Linked DNA regions of Homo sapiens: region 1 is linked to region 2. A link means that fine-mapping ties the variant in region 2 to the expression of a gene that starts in the linked region. Tissue or cell type: whole blood. Region 2 holds a variant in brackets; the other region holds the start of a gene. All regions are shown on one strand. Distances are between the middles of the regions.

Region 1 (8,094 bases), 57 kb before region 2:
TAAAAAAAATCCTGTAGCTATCACAAGTGATTTTAACCTGATAATAATTTGTTTGATTACAAAACATAAAACTACACCTTACCACCACTTCCCTCCCCGCATTTTGATATTTTCATGTCACAATTAACAGCTTTTATGTGCCATATACATTAACAATTTATTGTAGTTATTATTAATTTCAAGTTTTATCTTTTAGCCTTCATACTAAAGATAGAAGTGATTTATACATCACCATTATAGTATCACAGTATTCTGAATTTTGACTGTGTAATTAATTTTATTAGTGAGTTCTACACTTTTAGATTATTTTGTATTACTCATTAGCATCCTTTTCTTTCACCTTGAAGAACTCCTTTAGCATTTCTTGTAAAATAGGTCTGATGGTGACATACTTCCTCACCTTTGTATGTCTAGGAAAGTTTTCATTTCTCTGTCATTTCTGAAGAACAGCTTTGCTGAGTATAGTATGCTTGGATGGTTTTCTTTTTTTTCATTACTTTGATAATATTATTCCACTCTCCTCTGATCTTTAATGTTCCCTTTGAGAAATATGATTTGATTGCAGCACTATTCATACTAGCAAAAACATGGAATCGACTTAGGTGCCCATCAATGGTGGATTGGATAAAGAAAATATGGTGTATATACACCATGGAATACTACACAGTCATAAAAAATAAATAAAATCATGCATTTGCAGCAACATGGATGCAGTGGGAGGCCATTATCCTAAGTAGATTAATGCAGGAAGAGAAAACTATATACCACATGTTCTCAGTTATAGAGGGGAGCTAAATGTCAGATACTCATGAACATAAAGATGGAAATAATACACACTGAAGACTACTAGAGGAGAGAAGGAGGGAGGGAAGGGGACAAGGGTTGAAAAACTAAATGTTGGGTATTATAGTCAGTATCAGAATGACAGGAAAATTCATACCCCGAGCTTCAGCATCATGCAATATACCCAGGTAACAAATTTGCACACTTGGCCCCTGAATGTAAAATAACAGTTGAAAAAGAAAAAAAAGGTCTGATGTGAAGTGTATTGGAACTGTTTTGCATTTTATTTGCTTCTTTTCTTTTGCTGCTTCAGTATCATTTATTTGTCTTTGATCTTTCACAGTTTAATTATTATATGTCTAGTCTTTTTTGAATTGAATGTGATTGGTGACTGTTGACCATCCTGCACTTTGACTACATATATATATATATAATAGACACATACATATATATATAATATATATGTATATATGTATATGTATATATATGGGTGTATATATGTGTGTGTGTGTGTGTGTGTATATATATATATATATATATATATATATATATATATATGAACTCCTCAGATTTGGAAAGTTTTCTGTTATTACTTATTTAATAAGCTTTCTTTACTTTTCCATTTATCTTTCTCTAACTTCTCTTGAATGCCAGTAAATTGTCCCTTTGCTCACTTAATGCTATTCCATACATCTCATAAGTTTCCTTCATTCTATTCTTTTTTCTTTTTTCCTTTTCTGAGTATATATTGTCAAATAACCTGTATTCAAGCTCACAGATTATTCCTTCTGCTTGATCATTTCTGGTGTTAATGCACTCTATTGCACTTTTCACACTTTTCATTTTATTCATTGCATTCTTCAGCTCCTATATTAACATTAGATATTAAATGTTATCATTTTTACCCTTTGTTACATCTCTCTTTCTGGTCACTTATTGTTTTCATCATTTCATTTAATTATTTATCTGTATTTTATTAAAGTTCTTTGAGCTTCCTTAGAACAGCCATTTTAAATTCTCTTTCAGGCAGGTCATACATCTCCATGTCTTTGGGGCCAATCAATGGTATCTTATTTTGTTCATTTGGTACCTTATTTTGTTAATTTGGTGTCATCAGTTTTCCCCGATTGTTCTTGATCCTTGTGATTGTGCATTGATGTCTGCACATTGAAGAAGTAGGTACTTATTGAATTGCAGGTAGGTACTTGAATGCAGATATTGAATTTAAGGTAGGTACTTACTCCAGTTTGGCTTTGTCTGAGAATGTCCCTCAACTCTGTCCGGAAATTCTAGGCAGATCATCTGTTCTAGGTTTGTAAGCCTGTGACTGTTTCAGTCATTGCAGCACAAGGAGATGTCATAAACCCAGGACCACCATGGCCAGTTCTGCACCAGGCTGTAACCCATGGCTGCAGAGGCTGGCACAATGATGGAATGCATTCCCAACTCCTCCTCACTGATACCTGCCTACGTATGTTGGTTATTCATAATCCAAGGCTGCTGTAGTTGGCTGCCAGTGGTACAGGTAAGAACGCAAGTCTATCTCACAGGAACTATGTGTTCCTCTCTGCTGCTGGGGCAGGTCTTGCTGCTTAGGCCACAGGTATTCAAGCAGGGTCACTATGGGTGTCCTCCCAGTGCTGAATTTTACTATTATAGACTAGTATTTTGTTCCGTGAAAAAGTCCAAGCCTTACTTCATTCCCTTCCCCCCAAAAGAAAGTAGCTCTCTCTGCACTGTGCTGCCTGTGATTGGGTTAGGGGTGATACAGGAAACAAAATTGTCTTTCGTGCCCTCTTCAATGTGTATTTTTAATTATTATACTATAATCAGGTTCTGTAATATCTCATCTGGCCTGTTTAGCTTTTGAGAAACTATTATCATATGTGGATAATTATTAAATTCGACGTTTTGGAGGGTATAATCTCTGGGGAGTCCTACTCTACCAGGTTTTTCTGCCCATTCCCCAAAAATAACTATATTTGAATCTTTTCTAAGTTGTAAAGTGATTTCCCATAGAATTGAGCAAAATACATTTAAGTCCTCCTGTTTTCTTCTTTTCCTATGAGTATAAAACTTTCAGATTTTTGTGCCAATTTAGTGCACTTTAATATTTTTGCATTTTTTATTTGTCCAACAGGACAAATCATTTGATCACTTAATCTTTTCCCCCATCATAATTCCATATCTAAGATGTATGCATCACCATACCATTTTTATGCTTTCCAAATCACTGATTTCTGATTTCAACTTTATCAATACATTCCTTTATCATTTGGAAATGTTTTTTTCCACATTTCATTGAATTCAATTCTAATATGAATATAGTAATCACATGTTTTGCTTGGATTGCATTTTCCTGGTTTGTTTTTGCAAATATTGTGCCCTTTTGTTTTATCTGCATCTTTTGGACACTAGATGAGATGAAAGTTTTGTTCTTGATCCATAAGTAAGATTAATATTTCAGACTCTATTTTGTATCAGTAAGTTTGGAACAGAACAGTTTCTGGTATTTTCTTAAGGGAAGTGTGAGGAAGATTACAGTGGTTAGCAGACACAGTAATCAATTTTAGTTCAGAACAATATCACCTTACTCTGTTGGGGTTTCTGCAATAAGGAACTACTTACTGCCTTTGAGGCAAACAGATAAATTTGGTAAGATCTCAGAGTGGCTCATAGAGAAACCATGCAGCTCACATGATTTATGTTTGATAGCATAGCACTTTTTTTCTGTGGTTGGCCTTTCTCTTTTCCCCTTCCATAGAGCATTGCCTACAGGAAGGTTAAGATTCTAAGACAGAATAATTGAAAATAAGTTTTCAAGCTATCCTTTCCCCAGCACTACCCTCCAAGGTGTTCTGAATGTACACAGGGACACTGTTGGGATGCTTTCTTCTTCTCCTGTGGTCTGCTCATAACGAAGTCTTTATGACTCAAAGTAAAGAAAGTTTCTTCAGACTTTTCAGGATGTCATCACAATTGGAAAAATCTATGCTTCTACCAAAGGTGGGAATTTTAGCTTCATGTCCACTCACAATACATTATTCAATTCATTGATGGTGGCAAATATTTCTCACAGCCTGTTTGGGGATTCAGCTGTTTACTACTGAAGTAGAAACTTCTCTTAATTAAAAAGAAAATTCTGCTGTTTAGGTAGATTTCATGAAAAGAACCCAATCTAGAAACCAGCATTTTTACTTTTTTTCCAACAGTTGTTCCTATCACCATGAAAGCATATTAAAATTCTTTCATCCTTTGAAAACACATCTGGAACTTACCTCACCCTCCAGATACAGCCTCAGCTCTCACTCCACCATGAATTCAGACTTCCTGAGAAGGTTGCAGCTGGTCTCCATCCTTCAACTGACAACCCAATGCAATTGTATTCATCTCTCATTAAAGTTACTAGCAACAACTAAGAAAAACTTTGGATACATGTCAGTCTTTATTGTGTTGAACTTGACAGACATATTTGACATTGGAGTGCCCCATTTACTTGTTTAAAATTTCTTTCTTTGGATTCCATAACGTTTCATTATCTTCTATATCATTGGACTTCTATGATTGCTCATTCTTAGGTAAAATAGAACGTGTCTCAAGATCATTTTTAAAACAAAAGGAAGTATGGAGTTCTATCTAAAATAGAGTATTTAAATTATTGCATCATGAAGGGAAACTCACATTTAGAATATAAAGGCATTCTCAGAAACCAATTGCTTTTGTAGCCTGAAGCCAGTCTCTTTCCTACTTTTGTCTATAATTCTGTAAAATTAAAGTGATCTGGCATGATGATCTAAAAGGACTGATAAAAATTTGCTGGGGCTGCCAGAAGAAAGAAAATGCCTTTGACATTATGTTGCTGGGGACATTGACTTTGTCCCACACTCAGCAGGGGTGAGGAAGTTGGCATTTACTGATAAGCTAAGAAAAGTCAGTGCCTTTTGTAATTTAAGCTCCACCCATGGCACACTCACTCAAGGAAGATATAAATGACAAGGTCGGCTCAGCTCTCAGACAAGGTTTTCCAAGCAAGATGAAGCCCAACATCATCTTTGTACTTTCCCTGCTCCTCATCTTGGAGAAGCAAGCAGCTGTGATGGGACAAAAAGGTGAGTGGAGAGGGTAAGCCTTGGGGAAAGCTGCTCAGACAGCTAATAATCTAAGATTATTTGGGGTGCAAACAGTAACCTGTTTAGGCACAGATTCTTCTCTTTGAAGAGAATTGATTTTCTCCACCCAAAGCTTCAGCTTTTCTAGAAATATCAATAATTTGTTGGGGGAAAAGTGGGGGGTAAGAGTTGTAAGGGAGCTTTGGAGATAATGAATGCATACCTTCTTATTATCAATTACCAGGTGGATCAAAAGGCCGATTACCAAGTGAATTTTCCCAATTTCCACACGGACAAAAGGGCCAGCACTATTCTGGACAAAAAGGCAAGCAACAAACTGAATCCAAAGGCAGTTTTTCTATTCAATACACATATCATGTAGATGCCAATGATCATGACCAGTCCCGAAAAAGTCAGCAATATGATTTGAATGCCCTACATAAGACGACAAAATCACAACGACATCTAGGTGGAAGTCAACAACTGCTCCATAATAAACAAGAAGGCAGAGACCATGATAAATCAAAAGGTCATTTTCACAGGGTAGTTATACACCATAAAGGAGGCAAAGCTCATCGTGGGACACAAAATCCTTCTCAAGATCAGGGGAATAGCCCATCTGGAAAGGGAATATCCAGTCAATATTCAAACACAGAAGAAAGGCTGTGGGTTCATGGACTAAGTAAAGAACAAACTTCCGTCTCTGGTGCACAAAAAGGTAGAAAACAAGGCGGATCCCAAAGCAGTTATGTTCTCCAAACTGAAGAGCTAGTAGCTAACAAACAACAACGTGAGACTAAAAATTCTCATCAAAATAAAGGGCATTACCAAAATGTGGTTGAAGTGAGAGAGGAACATTCAAGTAAAGTACAAACCTCACTCTGTCCTGCGCACCAAGACAAACTCCAACATGGATCCAAAGACATTTTTTCTACCCAAGATGAGCTCCTAGTATATAACAAGAATCAACACCAGACAAAAAATCTCAATCAAGATCAACAGCATGGCCGAAAGGCAAATAAAATATCATACCAATCTTCAAGTACAGAAGAAAGACGACTCCACTATGGAGAAAATGGTGTGCAGAAAGATGTATCCCAAAGCAGTATTTATAGCCAAACTGAAGAGAAAGCACAGGGCAAGTCTCAAAAACAGATAACAATTCCCAGTCAAGAGCAAGAGCATAGCCAAAAGGCAAATAAAATATCATACCAATCTTCAAGTACGGAAGAAAGACGACTCCACTATGGAGAAAATGGTGTGCAGAAAGATGTATCCCAACGCAGTATTTATAGCCAAACTGAAAAGCTAGTAGCAGGCAAGTCTCAAATCCAGGCACCAAATCCTAAGCAAGAGCCATGGCATGGTGAAAATGCAAAAGGAGAGTCTGGCCAATCTACAAATAGAGAACAAGACCTACTCAGTCATGAACAAAAAGGCAGACACCAACATGGATCTCATGGGGGATTGGATATTGTAATTATAGAGCAGGAAGATGACAGTGATCGTCATTTGGCACAACATCTTAACAACGACCGAAACCCATTATTTACATAAACCTACCATTCGGTAACCATGTGAAAGGATGGACCAATATCAAGGTAATTTTTTTTTAGCAAATAGGGGAGATATCTCTCTCATTGTTTAGAATTGTTGGGGACTCTCCAGGACTTTTGTGGGATTGATAACCATTGTTCGCACCAATAGAAGTGCTGTATAACAAGTGGTAGGAAGATGAGCCTCCCCATTCCCTGGTGAGGAGAGGGTCTGGTAGTGGCACAGAAGGATGTTTGGCCTATCATGAGGTCCTAGAATTCCTATCCTTAATTGAATATTCTTCAATAATATTTTTTTGTATATGCCTACCTGCTAAAGGTTTTTTTGAACAGGTACTGACTACATATGCATATTTATAAGTTTATGGTATACTCTTGTCAGTTCTTATACTTTAGATTAGTAAACCTCAGTTTCTTTCCTATATAGTATAAAGGATTACAGCCATTAATGTTTTCTTTCTGCACACCAGTGAATGTTCTTGCATCCCTGTTAGGGTTCATCTATGCTCCTTCAGAGACCACAAGCCCAAAGACTATCAGTCCTCCCTCTCAGAATACAGGAAAGAGATATGTAGAAAGATCCTTGTTCATGTTGTGAAAGAGAAGATGGAAAGGGAGACACAAGAGATGGTGAGGGATCTCATGGGCCAATTGGGTGTTTACAACATCAGGAGAAGAAAACTGAAGCCCTGAGAGGGGTAATGGTGCTTCCCTGCCTCTTTGCAGTAAGTAACACTGCACTTGAAGAGAGGGCAAGCAGTAGAAACAGTGGCCCCAGCTGGCAACTAGTGGCCTGGTATCCTAGTAGTAGAGGGCTGGTACAGTTGGAGCTGAAGGGGACAGGGGGCCCAGCTACCATCCCCACCCTTCACTTTTTACTATACTCACATCACTGATTCTCTTCTTTCTCTCTAGGTGTCAGTTGACCTCAGTGAATTCTGTGATGTTTCTGAGATGCAGACTCCCGTGTAGTTTCAGATTCTTGGTCCATGGATGACACCACCTGCCCATGCTTCCTTGAATTAGGCTTTCCTAACCTGAAGCGCCTTCAAACTTCCAATAAAGAGATCATTTTCTGCTTCATCTGCTTTTGACTCCTGTTTTCTCTGGATTCCTAGTGGCTCAAGGGGTTGAGGGCATTTCTAATGTAAGTGGTTTTGAAAGAAAATAAAGGGATATTTTTGAAGCACTAGGGAGAATAGTAATCAAAGCCACATTTCAAGATATATTGATAGAAACCAACACTAAAAATAGGGTGCTGTTAGTCTACCAGTCACATGTCTACCACCTGAGGCCAACACTAAAGGCTTTCATGACCCTGGTACTAATAAGACCCCAGGAACTAAAAATATCCCAGAAAGACAAGAGAAAATGTATTGCAACAGGCCCTGGGAAAGTCCCTGATCTGCTGGTGATCAATTCCACAGTAGCACATCCCTTCAATTAGCTTAAGAATGTCTTACGCCTACAGTATCCATTGAGATGCAATTACACCAAAGGTGATATGTTAAATCTGCACAACTTCAGTAACAGCAAGTGGGTTAAAATGTCACCTGTGGATGGAAAGACCAGATGACCAGTCAAAGGAATCTTGAGGCAGGTGGTGTCTTCATAATGGAAATACTGCTGCCTATACTGCCTTTTCC
Region 2 (8,108 bases):
TAAACAAAATACATAAAACGTCAATAATGACCAAATGGGAATGGAGACACAGAGCCAGGGAGTATGGAGATGTAGTAGGTGTGGTGGGGAGAGTATTGGGGAAAAAAAAACCCCGAGCTGAGACAGGAAGAGTAGATGAGAAAGAGATGACTGCAAGGGAGGTGGGGTCATTTAAATCACCTCTGGAAGTGTCATCCACAGGTGGTGGACATGGCAACTGGATCTCCCTAGACCTTCCAGAGAAACAGATGGCTTAGCCACTCCTTATCATTTTCCCACCCAAGAAAGTTTGAATTCTGCAATGTTTGTACTTCCTCCCCTACTGCTCATCATAGTCCTAATAAAATCTGGAAATATGAACTGTCCTTTTAGGCCCACAAGTGAATGGGTGAAGGGCAGTAAAGCAGAATCTGGGCAAGGGTGAAAAACATCCACCATCAAAGAATTGGCAGGAGAAATTAACCAACAACGGTGGATCTCAGGTGTCTTCATACTTATTACCATGCAAGAGATGGTTGGTGTACAGATCAGGGCTCTGCACTTTATTCCTTCAAAAACTGCATGTCTGTCTCCCTAGAGGAAGGGATCCAGTTAACCTAAGGTTAAAGAAACAAAGTCTGTGGTATGTCATGAGGAAATGCTTTAGGGACCTGGTAAAACAAAAAGAAAAACAGTGCTCGGCATTAAGAAACTGCCATCATGACTACCCATGGAAGAAAACCGGGAATAGAAAAACTGGATTATTAAACTGTGGAACAGAGCTATAAGCAGCTTGGGAAAAGATGTCCCCAAATCACTAGAATCCATCTCCTTTGGTTTAGCATGTTTTGTTACATTTAAGCGTCACACAAAACTTGGTAGATACTAATGTCAAGTCAGTTTACAGATGAGAAAAAGTGAGTCTCAGAGAAACGTTCCTGTTGCAGATCAGGAGATGGTAGGGTCTTAGATGGACATGGCAGACGATGCCTGGTTGATCATTACTATGGGAGAGTTTGGTGTCTAAGCCTGGGGTCAGTGGAGAGCACCACTATGAGGACACCTCTGTGGCCCAAACAGAGCAGAGTGCCAGAAAGACCATGAAAGACTCACACTTGATAGCATCACTTCTGGCCTCTGGGACCCTGTGGTCAGCTAGAGAGGCATGACGATGATACTGGACTCAGGACACTGGGCTGGAATCCCAGCTCTGTCCAATTTGATGTAGAACCTTCCTTTCTCTGGGCCTCAGTTTCCCTATTTGTAAGATCAGTGCATTGGAACAGATGCTCTTTAGAGGCCCCAAGTCTTAGATTCTAGCTGGGTTTTTGCCTTATAGAGGACTCTCAGGACCCAGAGAGCCAACTTTCCTGAATAAAAAGCCTAGGAATAGACACCATGCATGACCCCGAACTTCACAGTGGACCAAGCACTTTTATATCCCATTTTAAAGAAAAGGAAATGGAACCTCAGAGAGTAAGCCCACTTGCCCAAGATGACACAGCAAGTCAGAGGTACAGTAAGATTCAAACCCAAGTCTTCAGAATTCAGCCACATACTGCTTCATTATGGTCCCTCCAAGACTTCTTTAGTCCTAAACCCAGAGTTGGAGATGCCTGGGATAGTAGCACTGTCCAGATAATCCTTCGGCGGAAAGTTAAAAAATGATCTTAAAGATGCAAGAAGTGAGAGTGCTGAATAAACCAAGGAGAATAGGTGCTATTTTCAGGTGCAATTTGAGCAAGGGCTCAAACTATAGCTCCCACAAGATTCTCTCCACGGCACTTCTCTTCATGTTGGCTTCATTCTTAGTCAGGCTCCCTCTTAGCATTTATAATATGGCTGTGGCATCTCCTCCCATCTTCCCAAATTCATGTCTAGTAAGGGCTTTTTCTGGGCAACTCAACTAACTAGGAGTGGCTAGAATTAAATCTTTAAACCAATGATTGGGACCAGGGAACTGGGATGTACCGATTGGTTTAAGCCAAGGCCACAATACTCATCACCATGTGTACTCATCCCCAAATCCAGTGGAATTTTCAGAGTGGGAGAGGGAATGATTCTCCTGGGGTAAATTAGGATATAGCTACCAGCAGAAGGGTGAAAGGATGCTCAGTGGTAAAAATAGCAGTGAGTGTTCTCTAAAGTATACCCCTTTTGGTTACTGAAATCTACATAACTAAATTTTTTCAAATACTTTCTAAACCAACATCTACATAAAATGCACTCAACCTCTCTCCCAAAGAAAGACAACAAAATGTCTCTCTGGGTACTATATTCATCTCCAGTTCTGCAATGTGGGTGAAAGCAGTTCTGTCAGTTAAATTTATAGTCTTCACAGATTAAGTTTAATAAGCTTAAGTAAATTTAACCACTTCAAATGCACCCAATATAGAATGGTAGATTGAGGGCGGAATGACTGCAATAAAAAGTCCTATTTGCAAAAGGGAAATATAGGAAGATATATACAAATTGTCACTGGCCCGTAATACGGATTGTACATCCTGTAAGACAGGGATGTGAGGACTTCCTACCTAATGTTGGAGTGATTTCCTTACTCAATAAATCTGAAGAATCCAGTTCTGCTGTCTGGGAGCCTCTCCTTTGCCTGTCACCTTCCATGGCTACATCTTGGAGGAGTATTGCAGAGGATGCCCTTTTGTTGGGGAAGGAAGGGCATCTGCACCTTTTCAAGAATTCACTTTATATAGGTGCAGCAGGATGTGGGGATCGACATGAACAATCAGTGGCCATTATGAGGCTTGGTTTTCATGTTTAGTTGGCTCCTGGTCCATTTGCTTCATATAAAAGCATGAACTAGTAACTATTGTCAGAAATCTCGCCGAGTCATGTTTGCCTTTTATTTATTCTGCTTTACTCCAAATATGCACTTTTAGTCTGAAGATGCATGTCTTAATTTAATCCTAAAAGAAAAAGTCCTTTCTTTATCTCTTTGAATATTACTTCTGTGCCATTCTCTCCAGTCTCTTTCTGGAACTTCCACCGGATATTTACTAGACCTTCTATTTTTATTATCGTTGTTTTGCCTTTCTCTTATATTTTTCTCTTCATCTCTCTGTGCTGGGCTCTGGGTGAATTTCTCAGTACTGGCTAAAAATTCACCAAGTTTTCTTTCAGCTGCATCCAGTCTAAACTCTACTTTATCCAATGTTTTTCCAACTTTTATTTTAGGTTCAAGGGTACATGTGCAGCTTGTTAACATGGGTAAATTGCATGTTAATATTTGATGTACAGATAACTTTGTCACCCAGGTAATACCCAATAGGTACTCTTTCAGTCCTAACCCTCCTCGAACCCTTCACTCTCAAGTAAGCCCCAATGCCTATTGTTCTCTTCTTTGTGTCCACGTGTATTCAGTGTTTAGCTCACACTTATAAGTGAGATGATGTGATACTCTGTTTTTGGTTTTTCTGTTGCTGCTTTAATTCACTTAGGATAATGGCCTCCGGCTCCATCCATGTTGCTACAAAGGACATTATTTCATTCTTTCTTATGCCTGCATAGTATTCCATGGTGTTTATGTATCACAGTTTCTTTATCCAGTCCACCATTGATGGGCATCTAGATTAATTCCATGTCTTTGCTATTTTGAATACTGCTGCAATGAATATATGCACGCATGTGTCTTCATGGTAGAACAATTTCTATTCGTTTGGGTATATATCCAGTAATGAGATTGCTGGGTCGAATGCTAGTTCTATCTAGTAAGTAATGAATTTTTATTTCAATAATCATTTATTTCCAGTATTTCTACTTGGTTTTTTTTATATGTTCATCTGGTAAATCTAAATAATGTACAGTTGTCTGCCACTTTTTTACCAAATTAGGCAGGACAACCCTTAGGCCAATTGTTAGGTATCTGCATTCTCTGAAAATTCAGCCTCATTGCTTGTTTTAAAAGACATAGAAAGAGACTTAGCATCAATAAACAATAAGCACCTAACCATAGCTCTCTTGTTTGATGTTGTTTTTCCTCCCATGAACATAAATCAAATTATCAATCAGCAATGCCTCTATGTGCATTTATGTTTAAGGTCTTCCTCAATTAGACAGCTAACCAAGGTCATCCCCTACAAAATAAGACATACAAGTTATAAATTGGTGCATGCTGGAAAGGAATTAGCATGATTTGCAAACCTAGAGTGTGCCTTAAGATTTTCCCATAGAAAATGGAGGCAATTATATCTCTATTCTGGTGTCTGTAATCCTAGCACTTTGGGAGGCCAAGGTGGGAGGATCGTTTGAGCCCAGTATTTCAAGACCAGCCTGGGCAAAATAGCGAGACCCCATCTCTAAAGAAAAATAAAAGAAAAAAATAAAAATTTAAAAGAAAAAAAATCACTTGTGGAGACAGGGCAAGGAGAAGCTGAGAAAGGAATAAAAACATGGGAGGGGCAGCATGTCCAGTCATCCCTGTTGGTCTAAGAGCAGCAATGCACTTCAAGGGAGAGGCTGGGTGTCCACCTCCTTCTTTTACCAGAAGGCTTGAATTCCCTTGGCTCGAATTTTGCCATTTGTGCAGGTTGGATTCTTCTTAGCAATTCTGGAGAGACTGAGAAAGGTGGTTGCCCTCAGAAAAAAACAGTACAAAGAAGAGTTAGAGAACTCATGGATGGGGAGAGCTGGGATCTGGGGCAACAGCAGCAAATGTCTGAACCAGAAGTAGAAGCCAAGAAAATTCAGTGGTGGCAGGAGCATTCGAAAC[C/T]TCCCCTCCCAAGAAATGATTTGTGACAGTGTCGGATTGAAGACCAAGATGTTTCTCACATTTTTCCCCCACGGGCTGGCATATCTCCCCAAAGGGAGACATCCATTTACTCAAGGACCAACAAAAAAGAAGCCATGACTTGTCACTAAGGAAGTTGTGGGCCTTGATAAGACATATTAAAAAAAGAACATGGCCTCTGTGGCGGTTGAACATGTGTTTGCTTTGTAATTGTTCATTAAATCTTACTCTTATTTTATGTGCTTTTCCTAATGCATGTTTTGTTTTACAATTTTAAAGTGTTGGGAGAAAGAATGAGTATTGGAAATTAGGCAATTGTCAGCAATGCTGGAACCTACAGGGGAGGCCAAGAGGAGAAAGAAAAATGACCTATCAAACTCTAGAACAAGGAGGATGCAGACCCCCAATTCCACAGCCTGGACTAACATCTCCCAAATTATCCTATATCCTTTCGCTTGATCTCAGTGACATTCATTAAAAGATCACAGACTTTGGAATCAGACTGACCAGCTTTTAAATCCTGTCTTTCCCACTTAATAAATATGTTCCCTTTGATAATTCTGATACTTGTGGCTAATAATTACTGAGCATCTTTTTTATGCTGGACACTGTGCTAAAGGCTTTGCATGCTTTTTCACATTTAAACCTATAACAATGAATAAAGCAGGTAGTACAGTATCCAATTTTACAAACAGGAAAAATAAGGCTCAGAGTCGGCCTCCTATACAAGGTGACAGGAGGAAGGAATGCTTTGGGTGAATTTGATAGGGGCTGTCTAAGGAATAATGCTTCTTACCCAGGCCTGAAGAGCAGCCATGATTCCCTGTGCCCAAAGCTGGGGTAAGGAGAGAGAACCACTGAGGGTCAACTCTTCAGTTCATGCAACTGATGTGCCTGCTGTACAGATGGTGCGTGAGCTCCAGATAGAAGCATCAGTTAGCATAAACTGTCTCTGGTGTCATCTTGATTAAAAATAGGACAATCTCCAATTTTATAAACACATTTTTAAAGTTGTATTTTCCACATTTAAGTCGTTAATCCATCTGGAATTTATTTTTGTGAAAGGTTTAAGTAGAGACTTTGTTTGATTTTTTTTCCAATATGGAATGCCAATTGTTCCCTATATCATTGATCCCCCTTTTGATCATAAAACTGTATTAATTTTGTACCAGTTTTCATATGTGGATGGATGCACTCTACTAGGTTTTCTTACTCAATTTGTTCACTCCCAGACCAATACCATACTCCTTTAATTTGCATCTATATTTTTTATAACCTGGTGCTTCGCAGTAGAAGTCTTTTCTGTTTTGCTTGTTTAGAATTGTTTTGGCTATCCCTGTGCTTTTACTCTACCATGTAAACTTTAGGGTCAATTTGACAAGGTCCTTAAAAACTCTGTTGAATTTTTATTATGATTGCATCCATGCTATAAATTACCTGGAAGAGCCAAAATATTTACCATAGTAAGTCTTCCCAAGTATAAAAAAATAAGTCTCACTCTATTTATTCAAGGCCTCTTCAAGTCTTTTAATAAAATTTTATTTTCATCATATAATTTTTCCAGGTAATCATAAATTTTATGGCTGTTGTGAATAGTTTACCCATTGATTCTCTTGGATTTCATCCTGAGACAATCATATCATTTGTAAACACTCACAATTTTATCTCTCCCTTTCCAATCCTTATACCTCTTTATTTTTATGTCCAATTTTATTGCATTGGCCTAAGATCACTAATATGAGATTGACTGAAAATGGAGATGGGAGAAATTCTGCCCTTGTACCTGTCTTTAAGGATGCCATTTCTAAAGTGTCATCACTGAGTATATTTGCTGCGACTGTTGGTAAATACCTTTTACCAGATTAGTTATGTTCACTTTTGTTCCTGGTCTAGGGTGTTTCTATTTTTATTACACATGAATGTAGAATACAATATAGAATGATTTTTATGAAACTATTTAGAGACTCATTTGGGTCATCTTTAAACTTTTAATTTGCTTAATCCCCTTGATAGATTTTCTGTTCTTGAACTATCTTTGCATATCTGTTTATTTATTTATTTATTATATTTATTATAGGGATACCCTACTATTATAATAAATGTCCTAGCATGTATTATACTTGTCACTTTGAAATATTTCAAATGTATGGAAAAAAATGGGAAGAACAGTACAAAGAACTACCATATTCCCTTCACCCAGATTCACTAAATATTAACATTTTGCCACATTTGTTTTATCATTCTTTCTCTTTTGTGTGTGTGAGAGAATAGAATGTTTTATTCCAACCATTGAGAATAAGTTGTATACATTATGCTCCTCTGTCCATGAATACTTCAGTGTGTATTCGCTATGAATAAGGACACCTTTATATAACCACAGTACAGTTATCAACTTCAAAAAATTCAACACTGACAAAAAATCCCAACATTTTGGATTTTCCCATGTATTCTCATAAGAAAAAAGAGTCTAGTTTCTTAAACTCTGATTATGATATAAACACACAATATCAAAGATAAGCACCACAAAAGTTTCCATCCGTGCTTTCCCTTCTTTTAGTCTCTGAAATCATTTGGGATAGAAATTGTCTTTCTTGTAGGTTTGGTAAAAAATGAATACATTTCATATTATTTCCCATTTTAAAAGAAGAGATTTAATTACCAAGTGAAAACCTCTTAACTTGTTTTCTTTTATAAAAGGAGAAATTTAATTACCATTTTAAATTCTTTAATGATTAGAGGTTTGTTCAGGTTTCAAATTTCTTCCTGGAACCAGAAAGGACAAAGAGAGGAGAGGAAACTGGTCATGCCTGGTAACCACTGAAGCAATTCATTTCAGACCTGTGTTACAACTCCTGATAAATGAAATCAAAGAGGATCACACTCATGTGTGTGTGATTTCTGAATAGTGCCCCAAAGAAAGTGCTAAACCTGACCAACAACAGCAACATTCTCAATAGGAGGTGGAGTGAGGATTGGTGCCACAAGGAACCTGGAGCTGATCCTAAAGGAAAATAAATATCTACTAGTTGTTGACCGATGTCACTGTGCACTTCTCTCACAAACAATGCCTTTATTCCTCACCACCATACAAAAAAGGAATTAATATTAACCCCATACATACATGGTAAAATTGACGCTCAGAAGGATGAATTCCCGAGCAATTTGGACATAACTCACACAATTATGATTTAAGATATGATCTGTCTCACTCAAAATCCACTATTCTTTCCACTCCACATGCTGAGAGCAAGGCCACAAATCCCACCACCTCTCTCACTTCTCTCCTTTCCTCCCATCATCCCCCATGTCCTAGACCATGGGCCAGGTACAGTGGCTCATGCCTGTAATCCCAATGCTTTGGGAGACCGAGGCGGGAGAATCACTT

What was found. PIP is the estimated chance that this variant, and not a neighbour inherited with it, causes the effect.
Region 1: SEMG1 starts here. The variant in region 2 is fine-mapped to the expression of SEMG1 in whole blood (TOPMed, PIP above 0.99).

The regions. Positions count from the first base shown.
Region 1 is chr20:45,202,238-45,210,331 of GRCh38, forward strand. SEMG1 (semenogelin 1) reads left to right here and starts at 4,796. Exons shown (of 3, transcript NM_003007.5): 1 at 4,796-4,892; 2 at 5,137-6,493; 3 at 7,364-7,531. The coding sequence starts at 4,817. The coding sequence ends at 6,449.
Region 2 is chr20:45,259,650-45,267,757 of GRCh38, forward strand. All of the region lies in intron 2 of LOC105372630 (a long non-coding RNA gene), which reads left to right. Among named protein-coding and RNA genes, the nearest start is that of SLPI, 9.1 kb to the left of the region's middle. The variant C/T (reference allele first, on the strand shown) is at 4,706.